Homo sapiens: one gene and its partners. The protein of the gene in region 2 interacts with the protein of the main gene of each other region in a pairwise test. Each region holds a gene or a part of one and is shown on either strand. Other genes may lie near its edges. The genes, in order: PLEKHF2, SPATA24, CEP72 and PIAS4.

Region 1 (7,018 bases), on a different chromosome or scaffold from region 2:
TCCTTAACTTGGTATTCAAAGCCCTTCACAGTCAAGTCCTAACCTGCTGCAATCTATCTTTCCAGTTTTACCTCTTTCTCTACATTCTCTGTTATAGTCAAACCAGACTACTAGCTATTACCAGAATATGCTCTGGGCTTCTTTCCCTACCTCTAAGCTCGGCATGTCCTCCCTCCTTTGTTCTTCTCTATTTACTGAAATCTCACCAATTCTTCAAGACACACTCAGTTCGATAGCCTCACAGCCAAATATTGTGGCTGGGTATATCCTGTGGCCAGGTGAATCCTCACACCATTTTATTTGCACCACTTTATAGCACTTATAGTCTATTTGTTTCATAAAAATGTGTGTACTTGCTCATTCCCAACAGATGTGGAGGTTCCTTAAAAAAAGATTATTTCCAGGCCGGGCGCGGTGTCCCACGCCTGTAATCCCAGCACTTTGGGAGGCCGAGGCGGGCGGATCACAAGGTCAGGAGATCGAAACCATCCTGGCTAACATGGTGAAAGCCTGTCTCTACTGAAAATACAAAAAATTAGCCGGGCACGGTAGCGGGCGCCTGGAGTCCCAGCTACTTGGGAGGCTGAGGCAGGAGAATGGCGCGAACCCAGGAGGCGGAGCTTGCAGTGAGCCGAGATAGTGCCACTGCACTCCAGCCTGGGCGACAGAGCGAGACTCCATCTCAAAAAAAAGAAAAAAAAAAAAAAAGATTATTTCCTCCAACTTTGTATTTGCAACAGCACCTAAAAAAAAATGCTTGCATAAATGGCATCAATGTGCCAATGTGCACTGAACTGAATACAATCAGCAGTTAGAAGTGGCAGCAGCTCCCAATCTTGAGTTTGATGAAAATCAAAGACTTCATTTTTAACATCTATATTAATTTTCACAGAAAACAGGAACCACACCCTACCCATCAACTGCTTCACTGGACCCACAGATTTTAAATTTACAAGCAAATGTTGTGGCCCATTTAAGTACAGTATGTAATTAAAAATTCTAAGTATTGAGCAAGGCAGATCCTGTTTTTTAAAAAATTTCAATCTCATGGTAATATATATAAATGATTTCTTTCTCCAAAAAGCACAGCTGTTTAGTTAGTAAATAAAAAATGATGATTACGTGCATATTTTCATCATCACAAAACTCAGATTCAAAAACTCACATCATTTCTAAAAGTATTTGTACAGGGGCAGCTGTACAGTGCTGACAGCTGTAAAGAAAGCATTGGATAATATCTAAAAAATAGCTTGGGCATAATGGCACAAGCCTGTAATCCAGCACTTTGGGAGGCCGTGGCAGGCAGATCCCTTGAGACCAGGAGTTCAAGACCAGCCTGGACAACATGGTGAAACCCCATTTCTACCAAAATTACATAAATTAGCCAGGTGTGGCGGTGTGCACTTGTGGTCCCAGCTACTCGGGAGGCTGAGGCGGGAGGACAGCTTGAGCCTGGGGGGCCAACGCTGCAGTGAATCATGACTGCACCACTGCACTGCAGCCTGGACCACAGAGCCAGAACCTGTCTCAAGAAAAAAATTAATTAATTAAATAATATCTGAAAAATAAACCTGGTAAAGCTCAACTAAAACACTACTGAGGAATTAGTTATCCTGTGACATCCCTGACCAATTTTCTTTAGTATCATTCAAAACAGTTACAACCTGCTCACTACATTCAAGGTTTATGTTTGGTGGAAAAAAAGAACAAAGCAGACACTAGGAAATAAGATATACGCCACAAGGTTAATACAAAACACAAGGAGATAAGTACTATACTAAAAACATTAGCAAAGTAGTAAGGAAGCAAAAAAAGCAAAGAGTGAGGGCATGGCACAGAGAATACAGCATTTGAACACTGAAAACAGGTTGTGAAGAATGAGCGGAATTTAAGAAGGCAAAAAAATGGCTAAATAAAGGCACAAAGCTTTGCAAGTAAAAACGCACATAAAAAGTCACACTGGGCAAGGTGCAGTGGCTCAAGCCTGTAACCCCAACATTTTAGAAGGCCGAGGCAACCAGATCACTTGAGGTCAGGAGTTCGATACCAGCCTGGCCAACAGTGAAACCCCGTCTCTACCAAAAAAAAAAAAAAAACAAAACACAAAAATTAGTCAAGTGTGGTGGCATGCACCTGTAGTCCCAGCTACTTGGGAGGCTGAGGCAAGAGAGTTGCTTGAAACCAGAAGGCAGAGGTTGCAGTGAGCCAAGATCGTGCCACTGCACTCCAGCCTGAACCACAGAGCAAGACTCCCTCTCAAAAGAAAAAAAAAAGTTACACTGTACAGCTGCAGCAGAGGCTGTAGGGGAGTTATTTAGTGGGAAAAGGGGGGAAAAATAACACAAAATCTTGTTAATATCTAAGACTTCCTTCTGAAACTTTTGGAAGGAGTGGCCTGATCTGATCTGGATTTTTCTTAGATAACTATAGAAACAACGAAAGATAAATTGAGAAGGAAGAGACTGAAAACAGGATCCAGTTGAAAAGTAACTGCAAAAATAGAGGGGAAAGTTGATGAAGAGTCTGAAGCTTACAATAGGAAAATAAAGGATAGGTCAGATTCAGAATTGCAGACTGGATATAGAAGAGTAAAGCTAAAATTAATCTCCAGGGTTTTAGTCTAAGTGATTAATTCAAAAGCAAATAAAACCATTAATTTTTAATGAATTTCAAGTAGTCAAACATTTATTATCACTTGCTCTGTGCAAAGCAGTATTAAAGGACAGAAGATACTCAAAACTGAAAACCTCTGAGGAAGAGAAAGACAGCTATATTCTCATATTTATATAGACAAGTATATATAATTCAGTTGTGTTTCTATAGGAAAGATTATCATGGGAGTAACTGACAAAGAAGGAAAAAAACAAAACAAGGAAGGGGTTTGGTATCCCTATAATGTGCTATAAACTGAGGTATACAATTAACTTAAATCTGTGCAAAGTCTAAAACAGCAGAGGAAAAACAAGCCAAAAACTTTTTAACTTAAAACAAACCAAAACAAAACAAAAAAAACAGTGGTAAAGGTCCCAGGGCCAAGGAGTTGAGGTGGGATGTAATTTTGACCAGGTAGAACATCTAGGAACAGGTCTTGTAAGGACCAGAAATTCAAGCTGGGCCTTAAAGCAAAAGTAGTAGCTCAAACTATCTGGGGTTTGGGGATGGATGATGGTACACAAGACTATTCCCCCAGAGAGGAAATAATGGAGCCTAGGCCAGAGGAGGCAAGGTCAGGAGAAGGCATAGTGATAAGAAGTCTGGTAAGATAGGGATGAGACAAACTGCAAAAGAAAGCAACCATCAGATAGAAGAGTTTACACTTTATTACACAGGCCATGGGAAGACAAAGGTTTTTAAATAGGAAAATATTAATCAGACACAGAAGCAGTACACGGGATGGACTGAAGAGAATATGAAGAAGCAAGACTGAAGACAAAGAAACCAGTCATATGAGGATTACAACAATCTCTAAATGAAAGGTAAGAAAAGCCTGAACCACAATAATTGGCAGATAACTGAGGCATAGCAGATAGGATTTAGGAAATAACTGAACACATGGATGAAAAAGGACTGTAAGATGACTTCAAAGGCTTAAGGGTAAGCCACTGGGCAGATGCTAGCTTTGTTTTAGGAGAGAGAAGAAATCAGTTTGGGACATGTTTATCTTGAAGTCCTCCAGGGCATCCACAAGACAAACACATCTGCGGGACAGAGATGCCAGGATGGGCAGGGAGCTCCAGGACAGAGAGATTTGGTAGTCACCCACCTAGAGATGCTGGCTGATGCTGGAAGAAAAACGAGAGCAGAGGACTAAACTTTGGGGAACCCCTAGTTTAGAAAGCAGGAGGAAAATTTAAGGGAAAAAAGAACGGGACACAAAGGAGCACAAAGCACCTTTTCAACCTGCTCTCATATGTTTCACAACTCTCAGAGACTAAATAACCTGCCAAAAGGTCACAATCAGCAGTGGGACACATGGGAAAAAAAAAAAAAAATCAAGGACTAATGGCAATGTGTAACAATAAAATATCTGAAATTTTTACCCACAAAAATTTAACCTGGAGAAATAAACTGGAGAAAGGGGGTGGAGGGGGTGTGGCACATAAAAAGTTTTCCCTCTGGCATTAACTCTAATAGTGAAAAATAAAACCTAAATTTCTAGCTGAGGAATAGTTAAATGTATCACAAAAAGCCATCATAAAAGAAAAAATTTACTACCTAAACTTTTAAAACTTCATAATTGGGGGAAGAACATTAAAGTAATATGGCAAAGGGTCAACATTTATTGATTGATTGACAGGACAGGGTCTTGCTTTGTCACCCAGGCTGGAGTGCAGTGGCACAATCTCAACTCACTGCAACCTCTACCTCCCAGTCTCAAGCGATCCTCCCACCTCAGCCTCCTGAGTAGTTGGGACTATAGGCATGCCACCCTGCCCAACTAATTTTTGTGTATTTTGTAGAGACGGGGTTTTGCCATGTTGCCCAGGCTGGTCTCAAACTCCTGGACTCGAGCAATCTGACCTGCCCATCTTGGCCTCACAAAGGGCTGGGATTACAGGTGTGAGCCACCGCACCCGGCCAACATTTGTAATATGCAAAGGGCTCCTGTAAATCCACAAGAAAAGAGGAAAATATCCCAACAGAAAAATAAGAAACAAATGTCAATTTTAAAAAAATGAAAATGACCAGTAAATTTAAAAAATGACACTCAGTCCCAATCAAATAAAAATTAAAATGATATTCATATATTACTCACCTAAGATGTGGTAAAAATGGACCCTTATATTCTTGACAATACTGTATATACACTGGAACAACTTTTCTAAATGCCATTTTGGCAATAGAAATGCTTTAGAAAGTTTATACAACAATTCTATTTCCAATAATACATACAAAAATTAAAAGTGTACAAAGTTGTTCACATGAAGTTCACTGTAGCTTTGTCTATAATATAGAAAAGCTGGAAACAACCTAAATATTTAACAATAGGAGACTAAATAAATTATGGCACATCCATTAATTTTTAGGCAGTTTTTTAGAAAACACAATATTTAATGTGAAATATTGTTAAAGCATTTTATTAAATAAAAGTTTCTAAATAGCACATATAGTATAAGCCTACTTGTTATTTAAAAGTGGCTGATATGCACCAAAAAGTCAGTAGTGGTTATCTCTAAGCACTAGACTAATAATATTTTGATACGCCTAATTATCTTATAATGAACACATTCTCTCATAGACAAAGCCTTTTAGTTTGGGAAGAAAATACAAAGAAGAATGTGTAGAAAAATATAAGTATAAAAAGTAAAATACAGTTATATGTACAAGTAATAAAAATGTGAGCAAAGAACACAAAAATCTTTCTTTTTCCCCAACTGTTGTTTAAATGAAACAAGTACAAAGAATTAAAAATAGTTCCACTTCTGAAAAAGGGGCGGGGGGGGGGGGAAGATGAAGAAGTTGGTGCAAAGAAGAAAATAGAAAATTCACATCATAAAATCTTAATCATTTTAGAAGGAAGTAAGGTCATCTGCTCAACATGTTTCGAGACTGGGGTTAGCAACCTGACTGGAGTGAAAAAGCAACAGAGAAAATAAGTCAACTTGGGGATAAGAAAAGGATTAGAAAGTAACTAGTATAAAGCAGGTAGAAAACAAGTATGTAATGATCACCAAAAGCGTGACTTTGGGGGAGAGTGTAGGGCAGGGACAAAGGTAGAAAACTGACCAGTTACACCCAGCAAAGGTCAAGGAGAGGAGGGACTATGTGGTCTAGTGAGTTCATGGTTAGAACATGAACTACAGAGTTCAAGGTTGAAAAGAGGGAAGACAACTAATGGCCTAGGAGGGACTGGAGGTGACAATAAGGACAAAAAGCTGCTTAACCAGTTATGACAGAAAAGAGAAAGAGAAAACAGACCCTTGCATCGCCATCTGGCCACAGGGTTTAAGACCTGAGGTAGAGTGGTTCTGAATGATGACAAGTAACATGGTCACAACATGCAGGCTGCTGTTGTAGAGTAGCAGTGGGGGTCACCGGAGTTAGTGAAGTGTAGTTCCAAATGTGGCCATTCTGGCCAGAAATGAATGTAACCCTTACTTAACCTCTATGCACTTCACTTTCCTCAGCTGCAAATATTTAATACATCCTTTCTAGCCTGACTGATAGGAATCTGGCTGGCAGCTAACCCCTCTGCATTTTACTCAACTACAAAATGAAAAGCATAAGAAAGGAGATGGGAAATTGAGTTAAATCAAAGGTTCTCCACCTGACTGAACACTAAAATCGGGGATGTTTTAACAAAGAGGCAAAATTACCTTTGTTCTGTCCCCAAACCCAGTAATTCTGATTTATTTGTCCTGGGGTGGGATCCAGGCAATATTCTTTTTAAGTAGCTCTTCAGGAGATTTTAATGTGCAGCCAAGGCTGAAAACTGAACTAGGTATTCCTACAGGCTGCTTCCCTTTAAAAATTTTTAAATTCTATGATTCTATATAATTCACTGCCACTCTGTTCATTTGTTAAAATAATAGCTACTATCGTATTCCAGGCCCTTCCACAAACATCGAATCTTGGGTGACCCTCACGCTAACACTGAGGCAAATATTTCTGTGCCCATTTCACAAATGAGTCCAGTGAAGCTTACAGAAGTGAAGCGGCTTGTTCAAGAGTCACAAGCCAGCAAGGAGCTGAGTCAGGACAAGGTTTATTTGTTCCAGTCCATCCTACATGCAACTTGCTTTCTTTCCAGTGCATTCACAGCAACTATTTGAATGCCTTTTATTCTCTTCTCAGGACCTCCCTAAATTGAGCACATTAGTTTGTGGTTTACAGTTTGACAGGGGAGAAAGTTATCTTGGGTGGGGGCAGGAAATAAACCCCGAATTCTATAGGCATTATAGAATTACAAAACACCTTAACCTAGAGAGGTTTTCCAACTTAAAACAGCACTGTGAAAGTGTATCCATGAAGTATTTTTTATTCAGTTAAGTCAACACATACATTGCTTTTAAATATT
Region 2 (7,893 bases):
TTGAACCCAGGAGATGGAGGTTGCAGTGAGCCGTGTGCCACCGCACTCCAACCTAGGCAACAGAGCAAGACTCCATCTCAAAAAAAATAAAACAACTTGGTTTCACTGGGCATGGTGGCTCACACCTGTAGTCCCAGCTACTTGAGAGGCTGAGGTGGGTGAATCACTTGAGCCCAGGCATTTGAGACCAGCCTGGGCAGCATAGTGACACCCAGTCTTAGAAAAATAAAAATAACTCTTAGTTTCCATTTTAAAGATCTGGCAATCCTAGCCCCCTGTCACCACATGCATCCTTCCCTATTGAGTCCTGACCCTGAGACTAAGGATCAGGTCCCAAATAGGACAGTGCTTGCCCTGTGTTCCTCTTGTATCAGTTAGGAGTAACCCATCAAAAGTGGGAAAACAAAAGGTGGACTAAGAAGGTTGTATGTTTCAGGAAAAATGGGAGCAAGCCCATTCCTTTATGGCGGTGAAGAATATAGTACACCGACTGCTTCCCTCATTTCCGTGGCCTGCCTGGTCCCTTAAGGCCTTTTCGAAGGTGTGGCCCACCCGGGCCTGCCTGTATCCTCAGCTGGGGACAGGTGTTAGAGTGAAACCCTGCCTTTGACACAGGCACTGGGTGGTTAGGAAAGAGCCCGTTTATATAACCGTGGTGGAGAGCACGGGCCTCCCGCCTACCATTGCACTTGGTGATGAGCTGGTCCTTCTTGCTGGACTCCTGAAGGACTTTGCTCTTGACACTGGAGAGCCTGGGTGGGGAAGATAAGATGGGAGGGTGGGCAGGCTAGCAAGCAGATGCATCCCCCAAACCCCACACCCCGTACTGAGGCCCACTCACGCTTTTTCAAAGGCCAGCTTCTCTTTCTCCAGCTGCTTGGATAGCACCTCTACCTCTCCGAGGGCAAACTGTAACTTCTCCTCTTCCTTGGCCAGGAGGACCTTGGTTTTGGCATGGGCAGCTTTCTCTTCCTGCAGGGGCAGCAGCAGTCACCTCATTACCCTAGGCCGCCTTGGGTCTCCTAGACTCCCTTAACCAGCCCCCCTTCTCAGAGGGACACACAGAAGCCAGAGCACAGGGAGATTCTGGCCACCTTGCTACAGGGGCTGGAGGTTCTCAGAGGCCGACCTTTCTTTTTTCTTTTTTCTTTTTTTTTTTAGACAGAGTCTCACTCTGTTGCACAGGCTGGAGTGCAGTGGCATGATCTCAGCTCAGTGCAACCTCCACCTCCTGGGTTCAAGCCAATTCTCCTGTCTCAGCCTCCCAAGTAGCTGGGATTACAGGCGCCTGCCACCACGCATGCTTGGCTAATATATATATATGTATATATATATTTTTTTGTATTTTTAGTAGAGACAGGGTTTCACCATGTTGGCCAGGCTGGTCTCGAACTCCTGACCTCAAGTGATTTGCCCGCCTTGGCCTCCCAAAGAGCTGGGACTACAGTTGTGAGCCACTGCACCCATCAGAGGCTAATACTTAATGAGCCTGCCTAACCACAGGGATCCTGGGAAACGGGGGAAGATTAGGAGACCGCAGAGGCCATTACTTACCACCAGCTTCTTCTCCACTGCCTGGAACTCTTCTTTACTGACAAAATTTTCGTCCTGGAGAACCATCTGCAACAGAGCCTGGCTGAGGGAGGGCCTGGGGCTGGAGTAGAAGGGGCGCCCTCTAGGGACCAGGACCAAAAGCGGATAACAGGATGATGCTCGTGGTACCTAGGATGAGACTGAGGCCTTGGGAAGGGAGAATTCAGTTCCACAGATAAACTGAGACTCAGCTCTAAGTGCTGCCCTCAAGGAGCAGCCAGTCTCATGGAGGAGGCAGTCCACAGTTAGCACTTCTAACATGTTGTGTGCCTTGATGGGGAGACATAAGGGGATCTGGGGCTCAGAGGAGGCCCCAACCCAGCCTGGGGAAGGGTCAGAATCACTTCCGGAGAAGGGGATGTTAGACCTGAGATCTGACTGCTATATAGGGTGGGCCAGAAGAGGGATAGAGAGAAAAGCACTCTGGATGGTGGGGACACACATGCCAAGGTCAGCTGCCAAGAGGAAGACCTGGGTACCTTCAGGGAATCAAAGGCAATTCAGTGCCTAGAGCTCCATATATTTTGTTGAATGAGAGCATTAGGGTAGCAAATAGGACAGGTCTCTCTCCCCTTTCCCCCACATTCAACTTCCCAGAAGGGAAGAAATTGTCTAAGAACAACTTAGAATGAGAAGTAGATGTGAAGCCAGTTTTATTTCTGAGATGGAGATACATCCTAACCTTCTTATCAAGACAGGAAAACAAAACCAGAAAAACCATGAACTCCAGATGGCCAGGATTCTATCATGCCTACCCAGGTAATCTGTGACTGCAATGCTTTGCACCCATTAGCTGGGGTTTGATTGAGAAGGCAAAAGCTAAGGCATGTAAAGTTCTTGGAGGCCCCTAAGTTAGCGCTGGCAAGGGCCAAATCTGCGCTTACTGCATTCAACACGGCACTGCCTTTGACTCTCGGGAATGGTGTCCATAATAGAAGGGATGACAGTTTCTCTGCCTGCACAGGAGGGCCATGGGAACTCAGTGACGTCATCTCCACTGAAAATGGGGAAACTGAGGCTCAGGGACTCTCTACCAGCTCTTGCAGCAACCAGGCAAACGGAAGGGAGAATATGGCTTGATTTTAGTTAAAATTCCCTGGTTCAGGAAGGTCCGCCCCTTTTTGGCTCCACCCCTACCGACTGAGCCCGGCCTCCTCCTGATGACGCCATGGGCCATGCGTTCTAGCCACGGCCCCCGCATCGGAACAGGTTCTGGCCCCGCCCCCACCAGTGAGGCATCCGGCCCCGCCTCTCCCCAAACTCCTCTGGCTGCATACCACGTTCCTCAGCTGGTGGATTAGTTCCTCCTGAGACTCAATCACGTCCCGCAGTTGATCTAAAGCGAGACACACAGATCCTGACCCCGCCTTCGACCACCCGAGGGGCGTCGCCATCTTCCGCCCCCGCCAGCTAGTTGGAAATGGCTGCCTCGGGGGTGATCCTCGCCGTCGCCCACCAATGAGAATGCGACGCCACAGAGCACCCTGGCAACGGGGGGCGGGGACTTCCTATGTTAGCGGGGCGAGGGGCCGCCTCTTAAAGGAGCCGCCTGGAGCGGGGAAACTGCTGACAACCCTTAAGGCATTTAAGTTTACAGGAAATTGCGCTTTTATTGCGTCTTCTGTTTCTCACGCAGTCCTGAGAAGCCGGCAGGGCCCGGCTTGTACTTTCCTTGCCTGCGAGCAGGCAACACTCAAAACAGCAGCCCTCAGCCTTCACCCAGGGCCTGTTAAACTGCATGACCACGAAGCAAGAGCCAGCATAGGCAACTCCTGCATCTTTAGCTTCTCATGCCTCTTTCTCCAAATCTTTATCCTAATCTCCAAATTTCCTCCATTGTATGAGATTCCAGCCTCCTGGAACACACTTAGTACTTAGGGGTCCTAAGCCTAAGCACGGAAGATAGACGAAGATAAAAAATGAGAATGGCTACACCTGAGATCAAAGTCTTCATACTCTGATACCAGGCTCTGGGCACTAGAGTCTGCACTAGAGTCATGTGCCACCACCCGAGGAGGAGGACCCTGAAGAGATTAGGAGGACTGAAGAGGGCTTGAAGGAGGAGAGTTTAGTAAAATGAAGTCAGGGAAGGATACGGTGATTACGCACACTCACCAAGTCTCTATTGAAGGCTTTTTTTTTTTTCTTGGAAACCCAAATAAGATTAGGTTTGGAGAACATCAGAGCGAATATATATTGTGTTCACTATTTCGTGGCACCGTTATGTTTATATTATTTCATGTGACCCTCATGGAACTCCTATCAGCCCCTTTTTACCTAGGCTCTATGAGAATGAGAATGAATAACTTGCCCAAGGTCACTCTAGTAAGTTGTGGAACGGAGTTCTGCTATGGGCAGTTTGGTTCCAGGGTCCGTGTTTTTGTTTGTTTGTTTTTTGAGATGTAGTCTCGCTCTGTCGCCCAGGCTGGAGTGCAGGGACGTGATCTCGGCTCACTGCAAACTTCACCTTCCGGGTTTAAGGGATTCTTCTGCCTCAGCCTCCCAAGTAGCTGGGATTACAGGCGCCCGCCACCACGCCTGGCTAATTTTCTTATTTTTAGTAGATACGGGGTTTCACCATGTTGGCCAGGCTGGTCTCGAACTCCTGACCTCAGGTGATCCGCCTGCCTCGGCCTCCCAAAGTGCTGGGATTACAGGCATGAGCCACCGCGCTGGGCCTGGAGTTCATGTTCTTAACCAGGATGTTGTGCTGCATTTGTGTTGCACGTCATGGGTGGAAGTTATGGAATTTGATACCCCCAAGTAGGAAATGACTATACTAACAAGGAGTTTGGAAAAAAAGTTACCAGTGACTATGAAAGGAGGCAGAAAGCTCAGGGTAAGTCATTCAAGCCGCTCCCCAAAACCCCCCGGGGGGCCTGACAAACTTGGCCATCCCTGTGGTTCTCTCAGCGGGAGCCCTTGTTTTGTTTCTTGCGTTTATTTTCATGGACTTGGAGACAAGGCCATCTCTGCTGACCTCTCTCTCTTTTTTTTTTTTTTTTTTTTTGAGACGGAGTCTTGCTCTGATGCCCAGGGTGGAGTGCAGTGGTGCGATCTTGGCTCACTGCAAGCTCTGCCCCAACCGGGGTTCACACCATTCTCCTGCTTCAGCTTCCCGAACAGCTGGGACTACAGGCGCCCGCCACCATGCCCGGCTAATTTTTTGTATTTTTAGTAGAGATAGGGTTTCACCATGTTCTCTTTTTTTTTTCTTTTTTTCTTTTCTTTTTTTTTTGAGATGGAGTCTTGCTCTGTCGCCCAGGCTGGAGTGCAGTGGAGCAATCTTGGCTCACTGCAACCTCTGCCTCCCAGGTTTGAGCGATTCTCCCAACTCAGCCTCCCCAGTAGCTGGGATTACAGGCAGCTGCTATCATACCCAGGTGATTTTTTTGTATTTTTGTAGAGACGGGGCTTCACCATGTTGGCTAGGCTGGTCTCGAACTCCTGACCTCAGGTGATCGGCCAACCTTAGCCTCCCACAGTGCTGGGATTATAGGCGTGAGCCACTGTGCCCGGCCGACCTCTGTTAAAGGGCCTAGAACAATACAGTTCAATAGAACTTCTAGTGATGAAAATGTTCTACAGCTGCACTATTCAATAGCCACTAGCCACATGTGGCTCTTCAGCAGTTGAAACGTAGCTCATGTGACTGAGAAATTGCTTTAAATTTTTTATTATTTTCTGAAGATCACCTTAATCATGGCTCTTTAAAATTTTTAAATTTTTAGTTTAAATGGCCATGTGTGGCTACTGGCTACTGTACTGGAAAGTGTGTGCCTAGAGGGCACTGTGTAGGTTGTGTGCCTCAGCACAGACCCTCTCAGAACTTGGTGTACCAAATGTGAATGTTCACCTGAATCACCCTTCACAAAGCTGCACATTCTTCTGGGGCAGTGATTCCTGAGCCTTCCCCAAGAACTGCACTTCCTCCCTAGGATCTTTCATGAGGCACTGCTTGATGTCCCTTGATATCCAACATCCACCTTCACCAGCTGGAACAGGCTGCTCTCTGCGTACTTGGGGCAAAACCCTGGAGAGCAGTAGGCTCCAGCAGCCACCTGGGGGTGGAAGCTTATGAACAAGAGAGAACCCTGGATCCAGGTCTGCACCTGCTTCCTGGCATGGACATGAGGGGTGGTCACCCTGGTTGGGCACTGCCACAGACTCCTCTATATGTTGAAAGGCACTTTGGGCTCCTGGTCAACCAGGACTCAGTGAGACTCAGGATGACATGACATCACAAACAGCTCTGTGATCCTGCCAGGGAAGGGTTGCCTTTCTGCACAGGCTTGTCATTTTGGCTGATGTTCTGGTTATCTATTGGTGCATAATAAACCACCCCCCAATTTTTTTAAGTCATTGAAAAAAATCATTTTGTTCATGAATCTGGAATTTGGCAAGGCTCAATGGTGAAAGCTTATCTCTGCTCCATGCAGTGTGAACTGGGATGGTTCAACGGGGAGTTAGAAGTTCCAGTTCCAACATGGCTCACTCACGTGACTGGCAAGTTGGTGCTGTCAGCTGGGAGCTCTGCTAGGGCTGAGGACCAAAGGTCTTGGTTCCTCTCCATAGGCTGCCTGGACTTTCTGATAGCATGAAGACTGGGTTAAAGATAATCATTCAAAGTGACAGAAAATGGAAGATGCCAGTTTCTTAAGGCCTGGGCCTGATACCTGGCATAGTGTCATTTTTGCTGTATTCTATTGGTCAAGGAGTCAGAGTCTAGATTCCAGAGGAGGACACACAGATTCCTCCCCCTACCCCACCACCTTTCAATGGGAGTAGTGTCAAAGAATTTGGGCTGCACTTCTAGAGCAAATCCTTATGACAGATGGGGCACCACTCCCTTCAAGGTTCATTTCAGGTAAAACCAGTCAGGAACTTAGTCTAGTGGGAAAAGTCAGACAATAATCAAACAACCAGATAAATCTAAAGAGAAACTTAGCCAGGTGGGGCTAAGATTCTGTGCAAGGGAAAGCTTCTGTGAGGAAGTGATGTTTGAGCTGAAGCCTATTAAGGTAACTAGGAAGCACTTAGCAAAGAGGGTAGGGGCAGATGAGTAGGTAGGGATACCAGAAAGAGGAAGCAGTGTATACTTTGTGTATACAAAGTCCCTGGGGCAAAAGGGGCTGGTAGAGTGTAGTAATTAAAGGGTAGCATGGCATAAAAGAAAAAGATTATAGGGCAAGAGGGGGCTTGGGTAGTGGGTAGAGACCAAGAACTTGGCAGAGCCTTGCTAAGCAAGGTAGGCCATGCTAAGGATTTTGGTGATTTTTATTTTAGGGACAAAAGAAAGCTACTGAAATATTTTAAGCAAGAGGATGACGTGATCCAATTTATGCTTGGAAAAGATCTCTTTGGTTGCAGTGAGGTATACAGATTGGAGTGGGGCTGTGTAAGTGCACAGAGACCACTTTAACCGAGAAGGCTACTGCAGTGAAAGTGGATGGTAGTTTGAGAGTCAGATAGTGTCAGAGATGAGAGTAGGTTTAGGATATTCTGGAGGTAAAATTGATGGAACTTAACAGAGAGAGGGAATAAGGGAATATGGGGACAAGGAAAAGGTGTTTTGGCTGTCTATTGCTAAAAACCACCATAAAATGTAATGGCTTCAAACAGCAACTTTTTTTTTTTTTTTTTAAAGACAGAGTCTTACACTGTCGCCCAGGCTGGAGCGCAGTGGCGCGATCCCAGCTCACTGCAACCTCCGCCTCCTGGCCTCAAGCAATCCTCCCACCTTAACCTTCCTAGTAGCTGGAACTGTAGGTGTGCAGCTAATTTTTATATTTTTCGGTAGAGACAGGGTTTCATCACGTTGCCCAGGCTGGTCTTGAACTCCTGGGCTCAAGCCATCTGCCTGGCTCAGCATCCTAAAGTGTTGGGATTACAGGCATGAGCCACTGCACCTGCAAAAAAATGGCTGCAATCATTTTATTATTTGCTCACAATTCTGCAGACTGAGCAGGACTTGGTGGGGCAGCACATTTCTGCTCTGCCCATCATCTGGGGTAACACAAATGGCTCAACTTGAATTATGTGTTTGGGTCCTCAGTTCTTGCTGTCAGCTTGGTTGCTGGGTTCTCTTCTGCATGGCTTCTCCTTTGGTTAGTGTAGTGGTCTCAGGTAGTTGAATTTACATGGTAGCTGGCTTCCCTCCAAGTACAAAAATGGAAGCTGCCAGTTTTGCCACATTCTGTTGGTTAAAGGTCAAAGGCCAGCCCCGATTAGAAAAGGGACTACACAAAGGCATAAATATTAGGGGATGCCAAATTAAGTCTACCACACAAAGTTTCCTGG
Region 3 (7,446 bases), about 140 Mb from region 2:
TAGCCTGGCCAACATGGTGAAACCCCGTCTCTACTAAAAATACAAAAATTAGGCAGGCGTGATGGCAGGCGCCTGTAATCCCAGCTACTCGGGAAGCTGAAGCAGAGGAATCATGTGAACCCGGGAGGCAGAGGTTGCAGTGACCCAAGATCGTGCCACTGCACTCCAGCCTGGGGGACAAGAAGGAAACTCTGTCTCAAAAAAAAAAAAAAAAAAGAGGAAGACTACATATACTAAAAGGGTCAGTCCACTAAGAAGGTATAAAAATCCTAGCTATGTAATTCAACAAACAGAGCTTCAAAACATACAAAGTGAAAAAAAAAACAGACAAATCCACAATTACAGTTAAGGGTTCCAGACCCCTCTCTCAGTCATTAATAGAGTCACTAGACAGAAAATCAGCAAGGATACAGAAGAACTGAACAATATCACCAACCAACAGGATCTAATTGATATTTATGTATTTACATAACACTCCACTCAACAACAGAATACACACACACTCAAGTGCACCTGGAACATTCAACAACATAGACCAGATGCTGGATCATAAAACAAACCCTGACAAATTTAAAAGAATTAAAATCATACAGATTATGTTCTGGCCATAATGGAATCACACAGAAAAATAACAGGAAAATATCCACACATGGAACGTTAAAAACATACTCCTTAAAAATCCACAGGTCAGGCCGGGCGCGGTGGATCATGCCTGTAATCCCAGCACTTTGGGAGGCCGAGGTGGGCGGATCATGAGGTCAGGAGTTCCAGCTACTCGGGAGGCTGAGGCAGGAGAATGGCATGAACCCAGGAGGCAGAGCTTTCAATGAGCCAAGATTGCGTCACTGCACTCCAGCCTGGGTGACAGAGCGAGACTCCACCTCAAAAAAAAAAAAAAAAAAAAAATTCACAGGTCAAACAGGAAGTATCGAGGGAAATTCTTAAAATACGCTGAACTGGATGAAAATTAAAATACAACATAACAAAATTTGTGGATACAGCTAAAGCAGTGCTTACAGGGAAACTTGTGGCACTGTTTATAATAGAAAATAGGAAAGTCTCAAATCAATAATCTACAGTTTTGCCTCAAGGATTTAGAAAAGTATAAAATAAATGCAAAGCAAGCAGAAAGAAGGAAATAAAAAAAAGCAGAAATCAATGAAATTTGAAACTAGAAAAACACTGGAGAAAAATCAAACCCAAAGTCGGTTCTTTGAAACTATCAATAACATTCACAAGCCTCTAGCAAGACTAAAAAAGAAAGAATACACAGATTATCAACATCAGGAACAGAAAAGGGATATCCCTGTAAACCTTGTAGCACTAATCAGGGAAGAAGGGAGGACTCGGCATGTCCCGAGGTCAGCTGCCCTCTCACCTGCTTCCTCAGAGCCCTGTGGTGCCTACTGCCTCAGGATCACTTGGATTTTGTCACGAGGTTACAGTTCCCCTTAACCACTCTACAGATAATAACCTGGACATTATAAACCGTTAAGTTTTCCATTTGAGATATTCTTTCAGGACCTGGGGACTGATGCCAGCTGGTCTAAAGGGCCCCGCAAGCGGATTCACCAAAGAATGCAGTTTCCACACCCTGATAATTCCATGGCCCTTACCTCCACCAACTGACAACACCAATCTTCCAGCTCCTCACAGTCCTGTTCCTCTAAAACCCCCAGCTCAGGCTGGGTGTAGGTGGCTCATGCCTGTAATCCCAGCACTTTGGGAGGCCAAGGCAGGTGGATCACCTGAGATCAGGAGTTCAAGACCAGCCTGGCCAACATGGTGAAACCCCGTCTCTACTAAAAATATAAAAAATTAGCCGGGCATGGTGGCGCGTGCTTGTAATCCCAGCTACTCAGGAGGCTGAGTGAATCACTTGAACCTGGGAGGTGGAGGTTGCAGTGAGCTGAGATTGTGCCACTGCACTCCAACCTGGACGACAGAGTGAGACTCCGTCTAAAAAAAAAAAACCGCTCAGATCTCCTTGGGGAGATGGATTGAGGCCTCCTTCCACCTCCCTGCTGGGCCCCTGCCAGCCTTAAACTCTTTCTCTGCTGCAAACCCCACTGTCTCAGTGTATTGGCCTGTGGCCCCCACAGCACCTGACTGAACCTGTTGGTCCAGTAACACCTGCAGACCACACACAGACATTAACAGGCTAACAACAGAACACCAGAAACAACTCAACACACACACTCCACAAGTTAGCTCAAATAAGCCAATGCCACAAAACCCCACACAGCCAAGACTCGCGGTGAACTAATATGAACGGTTCTCTAACAACCAGAGATACAGAATTTGTCATTTAAAAGCTTCAAAAACAGAAATTGACATGTCCATATGGTTTCACTGGAAAATTCCAGGAAACATTCAAACAATGAGCACACACTCTACAGAACCTCTTCTAAATATAAGAGAAGGCAACACTTCTCAGCAGTTTATGAGCTCGGCTTCACCTTGACGCCAAAACCAGACAAAAATAAGCCAAAAAGAAGGAAACCGGCCACCAACATCCTCAAGAAGGCCGAGCGCAACAATCACCACAGAGTGGGCCCAGGAGAACCAGGGAGGTGATCCCCAGCGGGAGGGCGGGCTGCGCTCCTGGACAGCAAGGCCGGCTCCCTCTTCTCAGCGGATGTAACCCCCAGTCACGGAACCAGTGACCCGATAGACAGGCAGGGGCCGGGACGCCGGGACCCGAACGCGGGCAGGGGCCGCACCTGGGCACGGGGGGTGGGTCGCTCACCTGGACACGCGCGCCCCGCTCGCCCGCGACCGTTCCGGACGCCCGCGGCGCCTGCGTAGACGGGTCCCGCCTGCCCACGGTCCGCCGCCGCCCCGGGAAGCTCGGCACCCACCCCCCCGCCACCTCACGCTTGCACCCCCGCCCGCCCTCCGGCGCACCCAGGTCGCGGTGAGGCCCTAAGCCGCTCTTCGCCCGAACCGCCTCCTCGCTCAGCACCAGCCGAGGGCCAGCCCGCGCCATGTTTCAAACGGAGCCCTCGGACGGCGCCTGCGCGGCGGGCGGGGCGAGGCTACGAGAGGGGCGGGACCTGCGTCGGCAGAACCGAGAGCCTGGCGGGACGGGGCGGGGCCTGCGCGGCGGGGCGAGGGGCGTGGCTGGGGGAGGGGGCGGGACTGCGTGGGCGGAACCAAGAGCCTGGCGGGGGGTTCTCCTGAATGGCGGTTCTCCCAGGTACTGGCCACGCGACCCCAGCCCCCGCCCCAGATAGCTCCCTGTCAAGGCTTCCCTGGGCGCGGCCGCCTTCTAGGCCCCGGCCCTTGACACACGCGGTGTCCTCCCGGGGAAACCCCGAGTAGGCGCGGTGGAATCGCGGCTGGTGGTGGGCATGGGGACCCTGCCCCATCCACACTCCGCTCCCACCCTGAACCCAGCGCCCCCGGGGACCCCCGACTCACCTAGACTCCCCACCCAACCCGACCCCCCCGCGGGGACCCCTCCAGACACCCCAGCACCCGCCCGGAGCCTTGTCTGCTGCACCTCCCGTCCAGCCCCGGGCCTCCCAGAGGTGGGCGGGAGCTGAGCTTCTCCCCAGCCAGTCACTCCCCACGGCCGGTCCTTCTCCACCCCAGAACCTCCAGAGATGTCACAGGCCCAGCACTGTGGCTCGTGGCTGACCGCGCCCTGGAGGGTCTCGCTGTGTTTATCCTTGTGAGGTCCTTCTACAGAGCTTTCAAGGAAGACAGAGTTCAGCCTGTTTATTGGGAAGACTTTAATCCTGCTCAAGACATCTACTGTGTCACCGTACCACTGTGGCCCAGCGCCTGGTGGAGTGAATCCAGACCCCCAGGGGTGTCCCCTCCCCGCCTTTCTCCTGGTGTCTAGGGGCACCCAGAAACCCTCACCCCAGATTAGACCAGCTCGTTGGCAACATCCCTGGTATGTCACAGCCTGGGGGGTGATAGACAAGGCAGGGTAGTGGTGGGGGGTACGTATGGTGGTAGTAGACGAGGGTATACACAGACAGAGGGTGTACATGGGGAATGTGTGCAGGGGCTGTGTGCAGGGAGTGTGTGTGGATGGTGTAGGGGAGTGTGTAGGGGAGTGTGTAGGGGGTGTGTGCAGAGGTTGTACACGGGGTGTGCAGGAGGTGTACTCAGAATGTGTTCAGGGAGTGTGTGCAGAAGGTGTACATGGGGTGTATGCAGGAGGAGTGTGCAGAGGGTGTACATGTAGGGGGTGTGTGCAGACAGTATACAGAAGGGGTGTGTGCAGAGGATGCACACAGGGTCTCTGCAGGGAGTATGTGCAGTGCTGTACATAAGGAGTATGCAGGGGGTATATACAGGGTGTATGTGCAAGGGGTGTGTGCAACAGTGTGTGCAGGAGGTGTGTGCAGGGTCTATGTGTGGGGGTGTGTGCAACAGTGTGTGCAGGAGGTGTGTGCAGGAGGTGTGTGCAGGAGCTATGTGTGGGGGTGTGTGCAACAGTATGTGCAGAGGTGTGTGTAGGGGCTATGTGTGGGGGTGTGTGCAACAGTGTGTGCAGGAGGTGTGTGCAGGAGGTGTGTGCAACAGTGTGCAGGGGGTGTACACAAGGTGTGTGCAGGAGGTGTGTGTAGATGTGTGTGCAGGAGGTATACACAGGGTTTGTGCAGAGGATGTGTGTGGGAGGTGTGTGCAGGGGATCTGTGCAGGGAGTGTACACAGGCTGTGTGCAGAGGCTATGTGCAGGGGGTGTGTGCAACAGTGTGCAGGGAGTGTACACAAGGTGTGTGCAGGAGGTGTGTGCAGAGGTGTGTGCAGGAGGTATACATGGTGTGTGAAGGTATGTGTAGAGGTGTGTGCAGGGGGTATACACAGGGTTTGTGCAGAGGATGTGTGAGGGAGTTGTGTGCAGGGGATCTGTGCAGGGAGTGTACACAGGCTGTGTGCAGGGGGTATGTGCAACAGTGTGCAGGGGGGGTGTGTGCAGAGGTGTGTGCAGGGGGTGTACACAGAGGGTGGTGGCAGGCGGTGGATGCAAGGCTGCATCTGTTCAGCCCAAGACGTTCCATTGGTCCAGTGGTGTTAGAGCACATTTGGTCAGGTTGCCTTCATGGGATATTTGACAAGCTGCAAACCCGAGGGCATGCTGGTGCCCGAGGGCGCCTCCGTGCTGACCTCAGCATGTGCAGCAAGAGCCAGGGCACAGGGGCGGCCTGGCCCATTTCAGGCAGGTGCTCTGTGGGAGGGTGGCTGTCTCCACTGACAACCCAGGGAGGTCAGCAAGGAGGAGCCCTGAGGTGGACTCGAAAGCTGTGGGAGCTGATGGCCCTCCTGGTCTCTGCCACAGCCCTTAGGCTGTGGGACACACAGCGTCACATTTGATCACTGTTCATGGGGCCTGCCGAACACTCAGCATTCCTGAGTGCAGATCGTCACGTAACTTTCCAAAAATTGCAAACCCAGATATGGCTCCATGACCCCTCCTGCAAGACTGTGAAGGAGTTCAGGGCACAGCTGAGCCCTCACACCCCCAGCCCCATCACTGCCCCTGATATGCACTGAGTGGAATTCTGTCCCGCCAGGAGACAAACAGTGGACAGCATCCTGGCTCTTCAGAAGCACATGACGATGGCAAACTGAAGGCCTCATGGGCCCTCACCCAACAGCAGTGGCTTTTCAGGGCATAACACAGGCCCCAAACACTGAGCCTCTTCCTCCTGGGCAGGTACCCAGCTGGCCAGACAGGGCAGGGTAGGGGCGAGTGGGACCTCAGTGGGCAGCCGGTCCAGGACAGAACCACACGGGGATGTGATGGAAGTACCAATGGGAACTTTGAAAACAATGCCTCTGCTCACCAAAGTATCCCAGCTTCACTGTAGAAAATATAGACACTACAGAAGGGCACCGAGATTCGATATGCCGCCCTGCTGAGATAACCCACACTAACATGCCCACATGTATCCTGCAGGTGTTTTTCAAGCCTGTGCGTATTGACAGTCATGAGGCTATGCTAAGCATTGCCGGATGCATCTGCCACTAAGTAGTCTTTAACGTTGTTTATTAAACACTTTTAATGGTCACGTTAGATCATAAACCAAACCCAACTTTATTATCCTGTCTTCTGCTGCTGAAAGTTGTGTCTGTCTCCACTTCCTCACGGTGCTCACTCTGGTTGGCCAAATCATGAAGATCCATGGAGGCGCGGGAGCCTTCCGGCCTGGAATGGGGCAGCAAAAGCACAGAGCCGCAGAGAAGCCGGGAAAGCAAAGGCAGGGGCTGCTGGGCTGGGCCCCATCAGCCCCATGGCAGCGGCACCCGCACAGGCCTGGGGTCCCCAGCAGCAGGGATGCTGTCTGTGGGCCCAGGGCTCCTCCACAGCTTTGGGGGCTTCCTGCCAGAGGAGGGGGGTGGTTCTCCTGGGAGGGGCCCCAAGACAGGAGTCCCCAGACCTGGGCACGCCTCACCTCGGGTAGGGCCCCAACGCTTCAGCGGGTCTCACTGGCATCCCTAAACCTAGACCACAGGAGAGTGTGCTGTGCCATCATCACGATGACCCCTCCCCATCCCAGCGCACGCTCCCACGACGCACCGTGCTCACAGTGACCCCTCCCCATCCCAGCGCACGCTCCCACAATGTGCCGGGATCACAGTGACCCCATGGGCTACCTGCCGCTCCCAAGGACTAATGGAGGCCTCTGTCCCCAGGTTCTATCCCGGGTTCCTCACAGGGCACCAGCCCTCAGGCCCAGTTAAATTCCGGAGCGGCTCTTTAAGCCCACAGGCCCAGGCCGCTATGGTAGGACCCAGGTGGGAGAGGCTCTCCGTGTGCTGTCTCCCTGACAGGTGCCCCATCCATAGCTTTCTAGAACATCCCAGGGAGGCTCCCAGGCCCCGAGCCTCAATCCTCAAGCCTGTGGGTCCCAGACTGCAGGCTCAGTGAGCCCTACAGAGACCAGGCCAGCGGAAGGAAACAGGGAGACCCACATGGTCAGAGAAGAGGGCTGGAGGTTCAGCCTGAGGGGCCTCTGGGCTTTCTCTAAACAGAGCGGGGGTGGGAGGAGGCTGTGATGTACAGTGAGGGGACTTGAGAGGGAAATGGGGGCCTCCACCCACCCCAGGGACGAGCGCTCACCCCAGGCCCACCTGGCTCGCAGCATCCAAGCCAGGGCTACGCAGAGCAGCTGCTCCCAAACCCAGCTCCCTCTGGGTGCCTGAGCCAGGCTCAGAGATGCATCCTGCATCGTTCTTTCTCCATCCTGTGTCAACAAGACAACACAGGCAACCAGCGTGGCCATGCTGGAAATCCACAGCCTAGCGGAGCGGCCTCGCCTGCATTCATGTGGCCAGTGGAATTCGCGGCACACACATTCGCACTGTCACGCTCAGTTCACGTGTGCACACGCTCACAGCCACAGCACACTCACAGTTCACACACCTCACACGCATACATACACAGGTGTACGTGCACATGCACACTCACGTACACACCCACCC
Region 4 (7,960 bases), on a different chromosome or scaffold from region 2:
CATCGTGTAGGTGAGGAAACCGAGGCTCACAGAGGGAAGAGGCTGGCCCAGAGCCTCCCTAGTACATGCGTGGGACTGGCATCGGCCCCTCGGCCTCTGGCCTCCCAAGGGTGTTCCCGTCTGCTGCCCGGGGGACCCTCACTCACCAGCACACTGGCTATGGGGACCTGCATGGTCTGCTGGGCCTGAGAGTCAGGGATGCTTTGAAAACAAAAATGCCTCATCTCCCTTGGCCTGACTTCCTACCTTGTGCAGAAAACAAAAAGGCTTGCAGACAAGATGTTTCTTCTGGAAGTGGCCCAAAGCCTTAGCAGGGAGAGACGATGTCATGTGGACACTTCACACTGGCAGACTGGCCGAAGGCAGGTGGGCTGGGGAACCTGCTGACATCCTCGCACCCCGGGAGCCCCTGCCCCACCCAGGCTGGACAGTGGAGCCGCAGCTCCCGCTTCCCGGAGCACACCCCTTAGGTGGCCATATGTTCACGACTCAGATTTCCCAGCAGCTGCCACCTCGGAGGAGCCTGCCCTTGACACTGGAGGGAGTGCGGGGGGGACAAGCATTCAGGAAGAAGCCCCAAATGCCCCAAGATCACTTCCTGCCCTGGCTTCAAGCTGACCTGCTTGCCGTCAGAGCTGTGTTTATAAACAGTGCCAGGCCCCGGCAGCTTCCAGAGTTTCAACTCCAGGCTTGCCTGGAAGTCGCATGGGGAGACATCAGCCGAGACACAGCAGCTGCGCTGAACCTTTCCTCCAGCATAGGCCCCTCAGAGCACCGGGGGTAGCTCAGGAAGGCGCCTCTCTCCAGGAAAGCGGAGATCTGTGCGAAACGCTGTGGACTATTTCAGGGAGCTCACAGACACCCCTGCCCCAAACCCGCCTGCAGGCCTCAAGCTGAGAGTCTCAGATTTCAAAGTTCACCAACAAACCCCCAACATTCGCCCCTCCGAGCAGTCTGTGATGCACCCCAAAAGACAGAATCTGCAGCCATGAATATGACAGGCTGGGGAAGGCCCCTGTAAAGAAGGGGATGTTTCAATGACATTTAAGGTACTTGGAGAGGTAGCAACAGACTCAAGGAGAAAGAAGGTTCCCCAGGGTCCAGGCCCCCTTGAATGGAGGCTCACGGTTTAGAGAACCTGAAAGAAGGGTCAACTTGATTTAATTGGGGTGGGGGGGGGCCCAGCCACCAGAGGGTTAAGGAAAGTTCATCAGATCATATTTCAAGGCCTGGATGGTACAAAAGAGTGCAGACCCTGCCCTCAGCCAGGGTGGGGGTTGGGGTCCAGGGTCACAGCTCCAAGCCCCGAAACGGGAGGTTACATTTCAGGACTCCAGGACACTTCAAGCCCAGAGCCTGCCACTTTGGGTTTACAGAGTTCAGGCCTCCACATCTCCAGGGCGAGTCTCCACTTTTCAAAACTCTAGAGAGGAGCAGAAGTGTGCGCAGGGGTGTAGGGTTGGGAGGCGAAGAGAGGTATATGCTATAATCACAGAGCCCTGAGTGCTGTGTTTTCAGATCCCAGGGGGTAATGTGAGAGGACCGAGAAGAAGATACGTACAGGTCAGGACCGTGGGGAGGGAAGATGTGAAAGGGGATGGGGGAGGGAGAGGTCCCCTAACCTCCCCGGAAGCCGTGGCCTTGCGGGCACTTCTAAGGGTTTTAGACCCTCAGCTCTAGGTAGGCACCTACAAGAAGGTACATCCCCTGGAATGGGGATACTCTGAGCTCAATCCCAGGATGATTAAAAGTGGTTCCAAGCTAGGAGATGGTATCTATGGGACATGGGACCTGGACAGGACCCAAAGTATAATAGAGCAGCAGCAACAGTTGTTCTAAAGAGGCCAGCCTTGGACCCAGTGGGGACCCTCCAGAGATCAACAAAAGAGAATAGGCAGAAAGAGAGGGGACCTTAGAAACCAAAGTTGGGGTGCATAAAAGTTCTGGGGGCTGTGTAGGGGGAGGGTGGGTGTCTGACCTAAGAAGTAGACTCGCTCAAGAGCAGAAAATAGGAGAAGCAGCCAAGGTTTGAGGACAGTATCTGATGCTGCACAGGTGAGGTTTAGAGCCCCCTGAAGCAGAATCAGTAGCCTCAGATTCTGTCCCGAGAGGAACGAGGTAGGACCAAAGCACAGTCCAGGATTTAAGATTAAAAAAAGGAGAATAAAGAAGGTCTGTGACCAAGAAGAGTGGTCCGAACTCCATCCTATGGGGAGGGAAAGGGAGGGCCCAGCCTTCCCCCAAGCGCCCACTCCGGCGTGTGAGAGACGGTGTCGGGAAGGGGGCGGGGTTCTGGGACCAATGCAGGAGCTGAAGAGGGGCTCAAGACCGAGCCTGAACTCCAGACCCCAAGAGGACGTGCCGTGTCTTGGGGGTGGTCTCAGGGCCCTGACTCCTCCACCTGGACGGTGGCAGGACACTATCCAGGACTCGGGGGACCCTTCCGAGCAGGAGACTCGCAAACCCCAGCCTGGCCTGTTGGGCGGGGACGAGACCCAGATAGCAGTCCTGGGAGCCCTGTGGGCGGGGAGGCGCAGACACTCCCCCCAACACACCAGCCAAAAAGCAAGGACCCCGGCTCGGAACCAAGAGGGCAACGAGTAGCTCAACACGTCCCGCATCCCGGCGGGACGGTGCCTCAACCGGGAGGCGCGGCCCTGGCCTGGCGCTCAGGGACCGGGACCCTAAGGGCTCGGGCTGGGTGGGGGGACCCTGCCTGAAGCCGGGGGAGCGACCCCCGGCGCGAAGACCTGGGTGAGGCAGGAGGGCCCCGCCCCCGGCCTCCCCGCCCCCCGCCCTCACCCTGAGACCGGGGGTCGGGGTCTGGGGGCCGGGACGGCGAGCCGCGGGCCGGCCGCGCTGTGGGGCCCCGGACAGAAGGCGCAGACCTCGACCTGCGGCCCGGCCCCCGCCCTCTCGCCCACTTGCCCCGGCCGGCGCCGCCACCGCTCACTCACTTTGGCCTCCACCAGCTCCGCCGCCATCTTGGTCACCAGCGTCCCCCGCGCCGGGAGCCCCCAGCCGTCGCGTCACGTGACCGCTCACCACTCGCGGGCGGGGCCGCCGCCCGGGCCAATTAGCACCCGCGCGCGCTCCTCCCGCCGCCGGTGCGCGCTGCTGCCTCCTGCGCAGGCGCGCGCGGCCACCGCCCGGGCCTCCGGCCAATCAGGTCCGTCCTACACCAGCGCCCCCCCCCCCGCTCGCGGCGACCACGCCTACCCCGGCGGCGCCTGACTCCTTAAAGTGGTACTAGCCCTGCGCAGGTGGGGACGGGTGCTCGGTTTCCTCTAGGGAGGGAAGGCGAGAGGGGGCGGTGGCAGCGACAACAATGCAGCTAGGTGCCGTGGCTTCCTGCGCGCGGCGGCCGCCAGGTGCGTCTCCAGACTCCCGGCGGCGTCGGGCAGGGGATGGTTGCTCCGCCGCAACGGCCGCCAGTGCGTACAGTGAGGCGCCTTGCAGCGCAGCGCGGTGCAGGCTCCACGGGCCCAGACACCCCGCGCGCTGCACATCCGGGTCCTGGTGTGCAGATGGGGCGTGGGCTCGGCAACCAGCTGGCTGGGGGCGCCCGGCGGAGAAAAGCGGGACCCCTGCTCCCAAATTCCTTGGAGATCGTACAGCCCTCACCTCTTTGCAGGCGCCCCCCCCATCCTGCCTCCCCACCCATGGGAAACCTTGGATCTGCACCAGTTGGGACCTCTTCTCCAAAGCGCTCCTTGGCTTTGGAGCTAAGTGGCTTCGTGCCCGTAGAAGTGGATTTCAAACTTCAATAATCAAGTATTTTAGTGCAATTTATTTTTTATTTTTATTTTTGTAGAGACGAGGATCTCATTATGTTATCCAGGGTGGTCTCGAATGTCTGGGCTTAAATGATCCTTCTGTCTGGGCCTCCCACAGTGCTGGGATTACAGGCGCGAGTCACCACACCTGGCTAGTCCAACACTTTAAACATAAAAAAATCAGTGCAAAAGAGTCCATGATGGATGAAATACCAAATTGTTATTTATTTATTTATTTTCGAGACGGAGTTTTACTCTTGTTGCCCAGGCTGGAGTGCAATGGCGCGATCTCAGCTCACTGCAACCTCCATCTCCCGGGTTCAAGGGATTCTCCTGCCTCAGCCTCCCAAGTAGGTGGGATTACAGGCGACTGCCACCACGCCCAGCTAATTTTTTTTTTGGCCAGGCTTTTCTGCAACCCCTGACCTCAAGTGATCTGCCCGCTTCAACCTCCCAAAGTACTAGGATTACAGGCATGAGCCATCATGCCCAGCCTTTTTTTTTTTTTTTTTTGAGAGCCTTGCTGTGTTGCCCAGGCTGGAGTGCAATGGAGCGATCTCCACTCACTGCAACCTCTGCCTCCTGGGTTCAAGCGATTCCCCTGCCTCAGCCTCCCGAGTAGCTGGGATTACAGGTATGCACCACCATACCCAGCTAATTTTTTTTTTTTTAGACGGAGTCTTGCTTTGTCACCAGGCTGGAGTGCAGTGGCGCCAGGCTGGAGTGCAGTGGCGCAATTTCGGCTCAGTGCATCCTCTGCCTCCCGGGTTCAAGTGATTCTCCTGCCTCAGCCTCCCGAGTAGCTGGGACTACAGGTGGGCACCACCACGCTCAGCTGATTTTTGTATTTTTAGTAGAGATGGAGTTTCACTGTGTTGGTCAGGTTGGTCTATGAACTCCTGACCTCAGGTGATCCACCGGCCTCGGCCTCGCAAAGTGCTGGGATCATGGGTGTTAGCCACCGCACCCGGCCTGAAATACCAAAATTTTAAGTAAAGAGCCAGACGTAGGAGTGTGCGCCTGTGGTCCCAGCTACTTAGGAGGCTGAGGCAGGAGGATCGCTTGAGCCCAGGAGTTGGAGGCTGCAGTGAGCTTTGATCATGCCACTACACTCCAGCCTGGGCGACAAAATTATAGGAGGCGGTTGTTTTAGACTAAACTCTTGTGCTAGGCACCAAGACACAGGAATAAACAAAATGCAGCTAGTCACACTCAGATTCTAAGTCACAATGACGAAGCTAAGTTGTTATCTGACCTTTGGGAAAACCAGGAGGGAGCCCTATCAGCCCATTTTCTCTTTTATTTTATTTTCTCTCTTTCTTTCTCTCTCTCTCTCTCTCTCTCTCTCCCTTTCTTTCCAGGAGGAGTCTCACATTTGTCGCCTAGGCTGGAATGCAATGGCGCAATCTCGGCTCACTGCAACCTCTGCCTTCCAGGTTCAAGCGATTCTCCTGCCTCAGCCTCCTGAGTAGCTGGAATTACAGGTGCCCGCCACCACACCCGGCTAATTTTTTTGTATTTTTAGTAGAGACGGGGTTTCGCCATGTTGGCCAGACTAGTCGAGAACTACTGACCTTAGATGATCCGGCCAACCAATTTTCCAAACAGGCCAGTTTCAGCCTTCAGTGGCCAATGTCCTAAAATTCCCTCTGCTTAATTTCTTTAATCCTTACACAAAAAAACTAGCCTGGCCGGGTGTGGTGGCTCACGCCTGTAATCCCAGCACTTTGGGAGGCCAGGGCGGGTGGATCACGAGGTCAGGAGATCGAGACCACCCTGGCTAACACGGTGAAACCCCGTCTCTACTAAAAATACAAAAAATTAGCCGGGCTTGGTGGCGGGCGCCTCTAGTCCCAGCTACTTGGGAGGCTGAGGCAGGAGAATGGCATGAACACGGAAGTCGGAGCTTGCAGTGAGCCGAGATCGCGCCACTGCACTCCAGCCTAGGCGACAGAGGGAGACTCCGTCTCAAAAAAAAAAAAAAAAAAAAAAACTAGCCTGAAACAACCTGATGGTAACACTAATGAGTTAACACATTCTTTGCTGTTGGGTTTTTGTTGTTGTTGTTGCTGTTGGTTTTGAGATAGGTTTCTGTCTCCCAGGTTGTTGTGCAGTGGCTCAGTCATGGCTCACTACAGCCTCAACCGCCCGGGCTCAGGTGATCTTCCCACCTCAGCCTCCTGAGTAGCTGGGACTACAGGTGCACACCACCACGCCTGGCTAATTCTTGTATTTTTTGTCGAGATGGGGTTTTGCCAAGTTGCCCAGGCTGCTCTCAAACTTCCGAGTTCGGGGATCCTCCCAAAGTGCTGGGATTACAGACATGAGCCACCCCGCCCAGCCTGTTCTTTGATTTTGCTCTCTACAACCCCTCTCTTCCTGTAGAGCCAACCTCCTCTGCCCAACTGATTGGAACAGTTATCCTATTTTATGGAATGAAGTGTAGCAAATTGCAATGAAGCCGGTTAAGGTCCTTAGATTTGTTGAAATGTTGTCCATTGACAGCAAAACCCCAGCTCTGCCATTGCACGTATGAGTCTTACCTTCATTCCGGCCCTGCTGATTCTGCGGGGGATTGGGTTTTTTTGTTTTTGTTTTGTTTTGTTTTGTTTTAGACAGGGTCTTGCTCTGTCACCCAGGCTGGAGTGTGGTGGTGCCAATCTCGACTCACCGCAACCTCGGCCTCTCAGGTTCAACTGATTCTTGTGCTTCAGCCTCCCGAATAGCTGGGATTACAGGTGTGTGCCACCATACCTGGCTCATTTTTGTAATTTTATTTAATTTATTAATTTTCTTGAGACAGGGTCTCTCTCTGTCACTCAGGCTGGAGTGCAGTGGTGGGATCTTGGCTCACTTCAACCTCCACCTATCAGGATCAAGTGATTCTCCTGCCTCAGCCTCCCGGGCAGTGGGGACTACAGGTGCACATCATCACACCGGCTAATTTTTGGTATTTTTAGTAGAGACGAGGTTTGACCGTGTTGGCCAGGCTGGTCTCGAACTCCTGACCTTAAGGGATCTGCCAGCCTCAGCCTCCCAAAGTGCTGGGATTACAGGTGTGAGCCACCACACCTGGCCAGGTTTTGTTTTTAAGTATAATTTGTATTTGTTTTGGTGAAGATTCAGATTCACAAGAAGTTGCAAAAATAGTACAGAGAGATTTGTGCACCTTTCTCCCAGCTTTCCCCAGTGATAGTATTTTTATAACTGGCTGGGCTCCATGGCTCACACCTGTAATCCCTGCACTTTGGGAGGCCAAGGCGGGCGGGTCAACTGAGGTCAGGAGTTTGAGACCAGCCTGGCCAACATGGTGAAACTCCTGTCTCTACTAAAAATACAAAAATTAGCTGGGCATGGTGGCGGGAGCCTGTAAGCTCAGCTACTCAGGAGGCTGAGGCAGGAGAATCGCTTGACCCCAGGAGACAGAGGTTGCAATGAGCCGAGATTGTGCCATCACACTCCAGCCCAGACAACAAGAGCAACGCTCCATGTAAAACAAACAAACAAACAAAAAGCTTGAACCCAGGAGGCGGAGGTTGCAGTTAACTGAGATTGCGCCATTGCACTCCAGCCTGGGTGACAGAGCGAGACTCCATCTCAAAAAAAAAAAAAAAAAAAAGATTCAAAAAAAGTTTTACATAGCCATGTTATGTTGTCAAAACCTGGGCGTTGATGTTAGTATAATGGAATCAACTCGAGTGCAGACATTATTTCGATTGCACCCGTTTTTACATGTACCTTCCTCTGTGTGTGTTTGGTTCTATTATTTATTATTATTATTTTTTGAGACAGAGTCTCTATTGCCGAGTTTGGAGTGCAGTGGCGCGATCTCAGCTCACTACAACCTCCGCTTCCCAGGTTCAAGCAATTCTCGTGCCTCAGCCTCCTGAGTAGCTGCGATTACAGGCGGGCGCCACCACACTCAGCTAATTTTGGTATTTTTAGTAGAGACGGGGTGTCGCCATGTTGCCCAGGCTGGTCTTGAACTCCTGACCTTAAATGATCCACCTGCCTCAATCTCCCAAAAGTGCTGAGATTACAGGCATGAGACAGCGTGCTTGGCAGTTGAGAGAAATTTTGTCTCACTTGTAGATTCCTGCAACCCTTGTGGTTTGAAGGTTCTGTGTAATCATGGTACTGTGTCTGTGTTTTAAAATATGTTTTGGGCTGGGTGCCTGCTTCAA

What was found.
Region 1: the proteins of SPATA24 (region 2) and PLEKHF2 interact in binary tests that used the Homo sapiens proteins (3 or more experiments, as listed by UniProt).
Region 3: the proteins of SPATA24 (region 2) and CEP72 interact in binary tests that used the Homo sapiens proteins (3 or more experiments, as listed by UniProt).
Region 4: the proteins of SPATA24 (region 2) and PIAS4 interact in binary tests that used the Homo sapiens proteins (3 or more experiments, as listed by UniProt).

What each region holds. Positions count from the first base shown.
Region 1 is NC_000008.11:95,136,784-95,143,801, reverse strand, and holds part of PLEKHF2 (pleckstrin homology domain-containing family F member 2), read right to left. Parts: intron 1-7,018. UniProt on the Homo sapiens protein: May play a role in early endosome fusion upstream of RAB5, hence regulating receptor trafficking and fluid-phase transport. Enhances cellular sensitivity to TNF-induced apoptosis.
Region 2 is NC_000005.10:139,401,074-139,408,966, forward strand, and holds the start of SPATA24 (spermatogenesis-associated protein 24), read right to left. Parts: upstream 3,017-7,893; 5' UTR 2,988-3,016; coding exon 2,871-2,987; intron 1,676-2,870; exon of another isoform or gene 1,621-1,675; coding exon 1,555-1,620; intron 973-1,554; coding exon 842-972; intron 753-841; coding exon 682-752; intron 1-681. UniProt on the Homo sapiens protein: Binds DNA with high affinity but does not bind to TATA boxes. Synergises with GMNN and TBP in activation of TATA box-containing promoters and with GMNN and TBPL1 in activation of the NF1 TATA-less promoter.
Region 3 is NC_000005.10:607,905-615,350, reverse strand, and holds the start of CEP72 (centrosomal protein of 72 kDa), read right to left. Parts: upstream 3,012-7,446; 5' UTR 2,990-3,011; coding exon 2,908-2,989; exon of another isoform or gene 2,750-2,907; intron 799-2,749; exon of another isoform or gene 670-798; intron 1-669. UniProt on the Homo sapiens protein: Involved in the recruitment of key centrosomal proteins to the centrosome.
Region 4 is NC_000019.10:4,002,785-4,010,744, reverse strand, and holds the start of PIAS4 (E3 SUMO-protein ligase PIAS4), read right to left. Parts: upstream 3,010-7,960; 5' UTR 2,985-3,009; coding exon 2,958-2,984; intron 798-2,957; exon of another isoform or gene 331-797; coding exon of another isoform or gene 247-330; intron 1-246.